3 linked regions of the Homo sapiens genome follow. The protein of the gene in region 2 interacts with the protein of the main gene of each other region in a biochemical or structural test. Each region holds a gene or a part of one and is shown on either strand. Other genes may lie near its edges.

What was found.
Region 1: the proteins of PLAT (region 2) and FN1 form a complex in vitro, tested with the Homo sapiens proteins (one study listed by BioGRID).
Region 3: the proteins of PLAT (region 2) and KRT8 form a complex in vitro, tested with the Homo sapiens proteins (one study listed by BioGRID).

Annotation. Positions count from the first base shown.
Region 1 is NC_000002.12:215,369,928-215,373,583, forward strand, and holds part of FN1 (fibronectin isoform 1 precursor), read right to left. Parts: intron 3,485-3,656; coding exon 3,395-3,484; intron 2,449-3,394; coding exon 1,982-2,448; intron 506-1,981; coding exon 367-505; intron 1-366. UniProt on the Homo sapiens protein: Fibronectins bind cell surfaces and various compounds including collagen, fibrin, heparin, DNA, and actin. Fibronectins are involved in cell adhesion, cell motility, opsonization, wound healing, and maintenance of cell shape.
Region 2 is NC_000008.11:42,183,460-42,187,115, forward strand, and holds part of PLAT (tissue-type plasminogen activator isoform 1 preproprotein), read right to left. Parts: intron 1,714-3,656; coding exon 1,622-1,713; intron 1-1,621. UniProt on the Homo sapiens protein: Converts the abundant, but inactive, zymogen plasminogen to plasmin by hydrolyzing a single Arg-Val bond in plasminogen.
Region 3 is NC_000012.12:52,899,384-52,902,232, reverse strand, and holds part of KRT8 (keratin, type II cytoskeletal 8), read left to right. Parts: intron 1-160; coding exon 161-369; intron 370-1,013; coding exon 1,014-1,074; intron 1,075-1,549; coding exon 1,550-1,645; intron 1,646-2,167; coding exon 2,168-2,458; intron 2,459-2,849. UniProt on the Homo sapiens protein: Together with KRT19, helps to link the contractile apparatus to dystrophin at the costameres of striated muscle.

The sequences.
Region 1 (3,656 bases), on a different chromosome or scaffold from region 2:
TGGTGAGATGGAGAGGGTCTGGGAAAAGACATCAGGAAACCTGTGCCCTATATCAACTCAGATACTCAGAAGTAAGGACTCAGAGTGTTGTACTAAATAATATTTGAAATCCCTTCCAGATCTATAATCATATCACCATTTGAGAGTCTGTCAATTACGTATGCATTTTGTGAAGACAACAGGATATGGCAGGAGGTGGGGGAGAGATTAATTTAATATAAAGTTGCTCATTTATTTCATGTTGATGTGTTGCATTAAATCCCAAAGATAAAAAGACAATGGCAACAAAGGTACAGTCAACAGAAAAGCCCATCTCTGGTGTACAGCAGAGGGGAGCCTGTGTCTAAATAGTACGTGTTTACATACCAGAGTTGCCCACGGTAACAACCTCTTCCCGAACCTTATGCCTCTGCTGGTCTTTCAGTGCCTCCACTATGACGTTGTAGGTGGCACCTCTGGTGAGGCCTGTCAGAGTGGCACTGGTAGAAGTTCCAGGAACCCTGAACTGCAATTATCGGTACATCCAAAGCAGAGAGAAAGCATTATAGTGAGGAATGACACGGGCTCTCCTCTTACCAATAACCCTCACTGTTTAAACAAAGCAAAGGAAGACAAAAAACAAAAAACAAAAAAAAAAAAAAGAGGGAGGGTATAGTGGTCCTAACCAGCTGAGGAGAGAAATGGAACAAGGATAGGGGCCATCGTTCCTGCCAGATTTTCCTGCCAACAATCTACCTACGTGCTCCGTAGTTAACAGGAGCCCTCGACAATACTAGAGACGGCCTGCCATTGATCTTGCTTCAGTCGCAGGTCTGCATAAGCCCTCTGGAAGCCCTGGCCATGTTTGCTTCACATAAAACCTGGACACTGCGCTATATGGGAGACACGGTCATGCTCCTCCAGGTGACATCTGACCCCAGTGTGGAGTCCTTAAAACAGTTGGGCAAATCCTCAAACTCATGTTTCTAAGCTCATAAATTTCCTACAGTGTTGTCAGTTTTTAAATTCTGCCACTTTCTAAAAGTAACAACACAATAAAAATTGATACTGTCAGTGGGCCGGGTGTAGTGGGTGGCTCATGCTTGTAGTCCCAGCACTTTGGGAGGCCAAGGCGGGCGGATCACGAGGTCAGGAGATCGAGACCATCCTGGCCAACATCGTGAAACCCCGTCTCTACTAAAAATACAAAAATTAGCTGGGTGCGGTGGCACATGCCTGTAATCCCAGCTATTTGGGAGGCTGAGGCAGGAGAATTGCTTGAACCTGGGAGGCAGAGGTTGCAGTGAGCCGAGATCACGCCACTGCACTCCAGCCAGGGCCATAGAGCAAGACTCCATCTCGGGGAAAAAAAAAAATGGATACTGTCAACACAAATTAAATAATATACGTTTTAGAGAATCAATCACTTATCAGCTGCTATGCACAGCTTCGCCTGTTTTTTTTTTTCTTTAGATATGTTGTAGATAGTGGGGTTCTTCAAGGACAAATCGTAAAGGTAGTGTTTTAGACTTCTGCACACAAATGGAAATTCAGGTAGAATATCTTTCTTTTCTAGAATCATCTATCTTACTCAAAAAGGAACCTCAAATGTGTGAGAATAAGAGAAATAGTTTCATTTTCTCTATGAAATAAAAGCTAGTGACTCTCTGGTATGTCCTCCAAAGTAGAGCCATATTGGGATTTAAAAAAAAAAAAAAGCAGGGCTTAAATGTGCCATCTTCTAAGAGGTTCTAAAAGTGGAGCCACTTTTTTTTTTTTTTTTTTTTCAAGAGACGAGGTTTCACCATGTTGGCCAGGCTGGTCTTGAACTCCTAACCTCAAATGATCCACCTGCCTCGGCCTCCCAAAGTGCTGGGATTACAGGCGTGAGCCATCACACCCGGCCATGAAGCCACTTTTTATTCGAGGGCTGGTCACTTCAGTTACCTAACTTATTCCTTTCTGTGCTGCCCCATGAGAAGTGAAGAGAACAATTAATTACCTGTAAGGGTTCTTCATCAGTGCCAACAGGATGACATGAAATGATGTACTCAGAAGTGTCCTGGAATGGGGCCCATGAGATGGTTGTCTGAGAGAGAGCTTCTTGTCCTGTAGAGGCATTTGGATTGAGTCCCGGACCGTGTGGGTACAGGTGATAGTCTACATCTTCCCTGGGGATGTGACCAATTTGGATTTCCTCACCTACATTCGGCGGGTATGGTCTTGGCCTATGCCTTATGGGGGTGGCCGTTGTGGGCGGTGTGGTCCGCCTAAAACCATGTTCCTCAAAGATCATTTGTTGCCCAACACTGGGTTGCTGACCAGAAGTGCCAGGAAGCTGAATACCATTTCCAGTGTCATACCCAGGGTGGGTGACGAAAGGGGTCTTTTGAACTGTGGAAGGAACATCCAAGATCTCTGGTCCATGAAGATTGGGGTGTGGAAGGGTTACCAGTTGGGGAAGCTCGTCTAGCCGAGAGAGGTTAGAGCCAAAAAAGCAAAGCGCATTAAGCTCCAGGAAGTAGCAGCAATGATAATAATCGATTCAGGCAACAATGACTGTTCATCAATTTGATAAAAGCCACCAGAAAATGAGCAGTTCTGAGATCACAAAACACTTTTTCCAGAAAGAAATCTTTAGGATTTTTCTCAAAGGTTTCTTTATAGTTTAGAAAGAAAAAAGTGTTAGTATGAATTTATCATACACACAGCTTTAAACCGCTGAGCCCCGTAGAAGCTGCCTCTGCTCAAATTAGACCTAATGGAACTGAAATGTGCAGTCTTTCTCTTTCTCTCTTTCTTTTTTAAATTTGAGAAGCAAGTTGTAGGAAGTAGAATCCAGACTAATCATATCAGTGTCATAAGTATGAGAATTACAGAGGTTTGGCTCAACAGTTTTTCATGGTTTGAAATGGTAAAAATAGATAAAACACACATGTTCATTTTTGAAATTTTCCTATATCAGGAATACACATTTTCTTGAAATTAACTGAAACTGGATGCAAAAGTAAGACATTATTTAGCTCTAAGTTGTAGAAACCAAATAAAGATAAATGTGAGAGGTTTCTCTCCCTCCTTTAAAAAAGGAAACATTTTAAAATTCAACAGAAGGTATAAAAGAAGAGCAATGATAGCTCTTCTTTTACATTTTAACATCTTGTTTGAATTTTTAAAAGGTGAATAACAAGGCTTTATATTGAGTGGCTGTAGTAAAGAAAAAAAATAAAACCAAACTCTGCAGTGCATGTTAAATTATTTCTCCTATTAAAGAATACAATATATACACTATGCTGTTAGATAAAAAAAATCACAAGAAATGCATCAAAACATGGAGAACCTTTTCATATTGCAAGATTGCTCATTTGTTATTAGTTTTGTCCTATCTTTCTCCTTGTTACCTGCAAGATACTCTTACCTGTCTTTTTCCTTCCAATCAGGGGCTCGCTCTTCTGATTATTCTTCAGGGCAATGACATAAATTGTATATTCGGTTCCCGGTTCCAGGCCTGAAGGGAGAATAGAACCATCACATTATGTCAATGGGCTCAGCTAGTCAAGTGGAAGTCGGTCTCACCAGCAGACGCTACTGGGAGCAGGCACTTCCTCTCCAGCTGGCTGTTGGCCTCTTGAAGGTAAAATCGACTTCACTTTTCCTCCATAAACACCCAAATATCCTGC
Region 2 (3,656 bases):
CTGAAGCTGCTTTGAAAGCCAGTAGGGGTTTCCTTGTGTTACTTAACAGGCTGCAGTGAACCAACGTGCTTCAGTGGGGCTGGGGTGGGGGTTATTTCTCGGACTGTGTCTGCCAGTGTCCTGAGGATCTGATGATGGGCTTGGGAAGGAGGAGGGTATGAGCCGTGGAGTGCTGCCTGTTTTCATTTATTTCCCCCATTTTTCCATTTTTTTCTCCCGACCTGAAACTGACAAAGCATACCTCTATACATAAATACCATAAATGGAAGGGATTTTCAAGATTATCTAGATCTGCGAGTCCTCATTTAGACCAGACCATGGGGGATGGGGAGGATATTGTAGAGTGACTGTAAAGTCTTCAGAGTCACAGGCATCACCCGTGGACCTGGGTGCTGAATGCATATAGCTGGTGCGTGTTTATATATATCATATATAAATTTAATATATGTGTATTACATATATATATACACACACCCACACACATATTTATGTATTTATTTTGAGGCAGGATCTCACTGTCACCCAGGCTGGAGTGCAGTGGCACAATCATTGCTCACTGTGGCCTCAACCTCCTGGGCTCAAGCGATCCTCCCACCTGAGCCTCCCAAGCAGCTGGGACCATAGGCACAAGCCACCACACCTGACTAATTTTTGTATTTTTTGTAGAGATGGAGTCTCACTTTGTTGCCCAGGCTGGTCTCAAACTCCTGGGCTCAAGCAGTTCTCCCGCCTCAGCCTCCCAAAGTGCTGGGATTATAGACACGAGCCACTGCACCTGGCCCTATATATATTTAGAACTTAAAAAAAATCTTTCATAGTGCTGTGATAAATGTGATAAGTAACGTAATGATTTGTATAAGCACCACTGAATTCATAGTACCTTTCTGTAACTTAGCATTTCATTTTTTTCTTTTTTTTGAAACAGTTTTTTGTTCTATCACCCAGGCTGGAGTGCAGTGGCATGATCTCGGCTCACTGCAACCTCCATCTCCCAGGTTCAAGCAATTCTCCTGCCTCAGCCTCCTGAGTAGCTGGGATTACAGGTGCCTGCCACCGTATCCGGCTAATTTTTGTATTTTTAGTAGAGACAGGGTTTCACCATGTTGGCCAGGCTGGTCTCAAACTCCTGACCTCAGGTGAGCCGCCCGCCTCAGCCTCCCAGAGTGCTGGGTTTATAGGCATAAGCCACTGTGCCTGGTCTTGTAACTTAATATATATTTTTTCAATCTTGGAAGTTTTTTTTTTTTTTTTTTTGCATTAAAAAGTTTGAGAGGGAGCGAAAGAGAGACAAAGCCCCATTCACCCATTAATCAAAAAAGGGAGAATCTCCATTCATTCTCAAAAGGACTGAAAACCACTGATTCAGCCCCATCCTCTCCTCCATAGAGGAGGAAATTGAGGGTCAGAGTGTGAGGAGATCAGCTCCAGGTCAGACAAATAGCCAGTCAGAGGCCAAGCCCAGGCACAGACCTAAGTCCTGTCTTTCTTCCCTCTGCAACCAAAATGACTCACTCCTGGCCTCCCCCTTTCTCCCCTCAGGTGCAGGAGGGCTATCGGCCTGTCCTCCTGGACTTTCCTCCCCCAGGGACATTCAGGGAAAGGCGGGGTGGCTGCCACTTACCCTCAGAGCAGGCAGGGGTGCTGCAGAACTCTGAGCTGTACTTCCCCGCCTTAAAGACGTAGCACCAGGGCTTTGAGTCTCGATCTGGGTTTCTGAAAAATCAGCCAAGGGAAGGGCCAGGGTAGGTCAAAGGTGAAGCCTCTCCTTTAGGACCCAAGGACTTTGGTATCCTTTTCTGGAGGAATGGGGGGTGCTTTTTTTTTTGACAGAGTCTCGCTGTTTATCCCAGGCTGGAGTGCAGCGGCGCATCTCCTCTCACTGCAACCTCCGTTTCCTGGATTTGGGCAATTCTTCAGCCTCAGCTTCCCGAGTAGCTGGGATTACAGGTGCCTGCCACCATGCCTGGCTAATTTTTGTATTTTTAGTAGAGACAGGGTTTCACCATGTTGGCCAGGCTGGTCTTGAACTCCTGACCTCAGGTGATCCACCTGCCTTGGCTTCCCAAAGTGCTGGGATTACAGGCGTGAGCCACCACGCCCAGCCGGGAGTGCGTTTTTGGTTGTACACTGGTAGTTCTATCATGTTAGGCAGGAGTATGATTTTGTTCCTGTGTTTACTTGGAGGTGAAGGATGGTTTAAGGAGATGCACATGGGTGCCAAATTGACAAGGTGTGGACTGGAATAGTCTTATATGTCAACTTGGCCAGGCTGTGGCACCCAGTCAGTTAACCAAACATTCATCTAGGAGTTGTGAAAGTGTTTTATAGATGTGGTTAATATCTACAGCCAGTTGACTTTAGAAAAGGAAATTGTCCTAGATAATGTAGTTGGGCCTCGTCCAATCACTTAAAGGCCTTAAGAGCAAATATGAGGTTTCCTGAATAAGAAATTCTGCCTTAAGAGAGCAGCCTCAGCTTCTGCCTGCACTTCCAGCCTGGCTTACCAAGATGTTTCGGACTTGCCAGCCCCCACGATCCTGTCAGCCAGTTCCTTAACATAAATGTCTATCTATCTAGTGTGAAAGGAAAATAAATCTCAGGACCCCAACGTCATGAGCCAAGGGAAATGTCAAGCCGGGAACTACGTCAGGCAAACCTGCCTCTCATTTATTCCTCAATAAGATAGCTGCAAAGTTTTTTTTTTTTTTTTTTAATTCTCTACAAGGACATTCCTTGCAGGCCTAAAGATCTTTACCCTAAAACAGTTCTGTTGACTTTCACCTTGGCATTGTAAATGGATAGCTTATCTTCCCAGGTGCAGGACAGAAAATCATCCCTCTGCTCATCTGAGACAAATGCGTATCTGATTGCTTCCTCTGCCCTATTTTTTATGTAAAAATGCAGATGAACTGAGCCAGACTCAATTGTGTGTTCAGTGAAAAGCTGATCAAGGACTCAGAATACAGCCTTTTGTCTCTTATCTACCTATGGCCTGGAAGCCCTTGCTTCGAGTTATCCCAACTTTCCCGACCAAACCGATGTACATCTCACACATGTTGATTGATGTCTCATGACTCCCTAAAACGTCTAAAGGCAAGCTGTGCCCTGACAACCTTGGGCACATGTCCTCAGGACCTCCTGAGGCTGTGTCACGGGGGTGTCCTTAACCTTGGCAAAATCAACTTTCTAAATCGATTGAGACCTGTCTCAGATACTTTGGGTTCACACACATTCTCTCTCTCTCTCTATTTCTCTCTCCTCTTTCTCTATCTCTATCTCTCTATCATCTATCAATCTGTCTATCATCTATCTATCTATCATCTATCATCTTACATCTACTATCACCTATGTATCTATCATCTATCAATCTTCTATCATCTATCAATCTATCTATCACCTATCATCTATCATCTATCATCTATTTATCATTATCATCTATGTATCATCTATTTAATCATCTATCAATCATCTATCATCTGTCAATCTGTCTATCATCTATGTGTCTATCATCTATGTATCTATCATCTATCTTTCTAATCATCTGTCTATCATCTACCACCTATCATCTATCATCTATCCATCTATCATCTATCTACCATCTATCATCTATGTATCTATCATCTATTTATCTATCAATCATCTATCAATCTATCATC
Region 3 (2,849 bases), on a different chromosome or scaffold from region 2:
CCTGGTCATAGGTGATCTTTCCAGAACAGCTAACCAGGTGCCTGGGGTCTGGAGACCTTACTGCTTGAGGAGTGAATTAAGAGAAAAGACTGCTTGCTTTCCTCCAGACTTTGAGCCCTGGCCTGATGTAGACCTTTTTGCTCTCTCCTCCTTCGTATAGGTACGGTTCCTGGAGCAGCAGAACAAGATGCTGGAGACCAAGTGGAGCCTCCTGCAGCAGCAGAAGACGGCTCGAAGCAACATGGACAACATGTTCGAGAGCTACATCAACAACCTTAGGCGGCAGCTGGAGACTCTGGGCCAGGAGAAGCTGAAGCTGGAGGCGGAGCTTGGCAACATGCAGGGGCTGGTGGAGGACTTCAAGAACAAGTGAGCAACTCCCACCCTCCACCCAACTGAAGTCACCGTGCTCTCCTCCACCCCTTGGGACCTTGGGACTAAGTCCCCATGGCCCTCTGTTGTGGGAAGTGCAGTCCTATCTAATTAGGGTGACCACCTGATGAGGTTTGCTCGGAACAGTCTGTGTTTATGCCCAGGTTCCTAGCACAATTGTTGATAGTACCCACCCCCTTTCAATCTCAACTGTCTGGATTTGAAGAACAAATTATGTGTCAATGTTGACATGGTAAACCTGAGACGGGAGAGATAGGCAGCCTGTGGGCCTCACTTTTGTACTTAACATTCTGGCCCCTCTTTAGTCTTGACCCTTGACCTCTAGCAAACTCTAGAAAGTTCTGTCTGAGGTCTCATGTCAGGCCCTGCTGTTAACACTCTCAAGGTGTCCAATCCGATGTGTATTCATGGATTTGGAGAGAGATTTCCTGCTTCCCACGGGCTAAGGGAGGGGTGAGGGTGGAGAGGGCAGCTGGGGAAGGCAGAAGGACCAGCCTTCTCATATCCTGCATCTCTGTGAACTGAATTTTCCTGATTTTCACAACGCCCCTGTCTCCCAAAAGACCAAGGGCAACCTCCCTTTTGCCTTCATCCTCTAATTGTAAGTCTTTTCCTCACAGGTATGAGGATGAGATCAATAAGCGTACAGAGATGGAGAACGAATTTGTCCTCATCAAGAAGGTGAGGGAGTCTCCCTTCTCCTATCTGGACACTGGAGGCTGGGGCTCAGAGACTCAGACCAAGAAGCTTTCTGGGTTTTGTCCCTAAATATTCCTAAGTAGTGGGACAAACTCATTTATGTAAACATTTGGGTGCACAGAAAGGTAGACAAGGATGGAGTGGTAGGTGCATTTGGACAGAACTCTTGACATCGGTGTTGGGACATGGTTCAGAAAACAGAGCAGTAGAACTGGAGATCTGGCTCTAGAAGGCTCCCTAGAGAAGGAGGTGGAAGAGGGTGTGTTGCAGGAAGCAGAGGTGAAGGTGTGTGGGCTGAGAATGCACATGTGATGGGCAGAGGCTGGGCTGGAAGATCAATCCACAAAGTGGGCAACTAGAAAGTCCTGTGACCAGGCCATTGGGTGGACCTTGGGAGCCCCTTGGTTGGGGTTGGGTGTGGAAACCCAGCTCAGGCTCCCCTCTCCTCATCCCCCAGGATGTGGATGAAGCTTACATGAACAAGGTAGAGCTGGAGTCTCGCCTGGAAGGGCTGACCGACGAGATCAACTTCCTCAGGCAGCTATATGAAGAGGTATGTTCCTGGTCGCAGGAGAGTGAGGGTCCCCCAGCCTTGTCAGCGCCTCCACCCTGAGACTCAACCAGAGGCTCCTCCCAGCCCCCAGCACACTAATAAGACAAAGGCCCACTGCTGACTAATTACAGCCACCAATATTTGCTCGGCTAGTATTTATTGGGTCTATATGTTCTGTCCCTCGCATGAGGGATGAGTCATTACCCCATTTCACAGACGAGAAAGTGGGCTCAGAGAAGTGAAATAACGTATCCAAGGTCATCATAGGGTGTGGTGATTCAGCAGCAACTCTGTCCCCAAAGCCCTTGTTCCTAATCTTTGAGCTGCATTGGATCCCTCTGTGCACCTAGTATTGGTGCACCCAGTTCCTTTTTCAGGAACTTTGCCCTCTCCCTGACCCTGACTCCCACCTGCTCCTCTCCTCTGCTGCCCCTGTCTTATACCCTAAGAAAGGCTGTTGTGGAAAAGGGGGCTCCCTGTGTGCAGAGACAGGGCCTCACCACTTGCCCTCTTCCCCCACAGGAGATCCGGGAGCTGCAGTCCCAGATCTCGGACACATCTGTGGTGCTGTCCATGGACAACAGCCGCTCCCTGGACATGGACAGCATCATTGCTGAGGTCAAGGCACAGTACGAGGATATTGCCAACCGCAGCCGGGCTGAGGCTGAGAGCATGTACCAGATCAAGTATGAGGAGCTGCAGAGCCTGGCTGGGAAGCACGGGGATGACCTGCGGCGCACAAAGACTGAGATCTCTGAGATGAACCGGAACATCAGCCGGCTCCAGGCTGAGATTGAGGGCCTCAAAGGCCAGGTATGGGCCGGGTTGGGGGTGGGAGGGGTTCCTTGGACACATCCTGGTGAGAGGAGATAATGTAGGAAGAGTGAAGTTTCTGGGAGTCGGGGAAGGAATCCTAGACCAGGGTTCAGGAGTTGGAGGGGCAGCCACAGTTCAGCTTCTCAGTCTGCTTCTGAGAAGCAAAGGGATGCAGGGAAGGTCCCTTGGGCCAGGACAGAGGTGAAAGGGGACTGGGGCAGGTATGTTGGGGCTCGTGATACATGCTCCCAAGCCTGCTTTAATCAGTCATATGCATCAGGGTAAGGTTGAGCTCTGCTGCTTTAAGGAAAGTCTAGAACCCAGGGATCTAGTCCAGTTAGGGTAGGGGGACCTTACAGTGTCGCAGGTGAGAAGGGTGTGGAGGGGA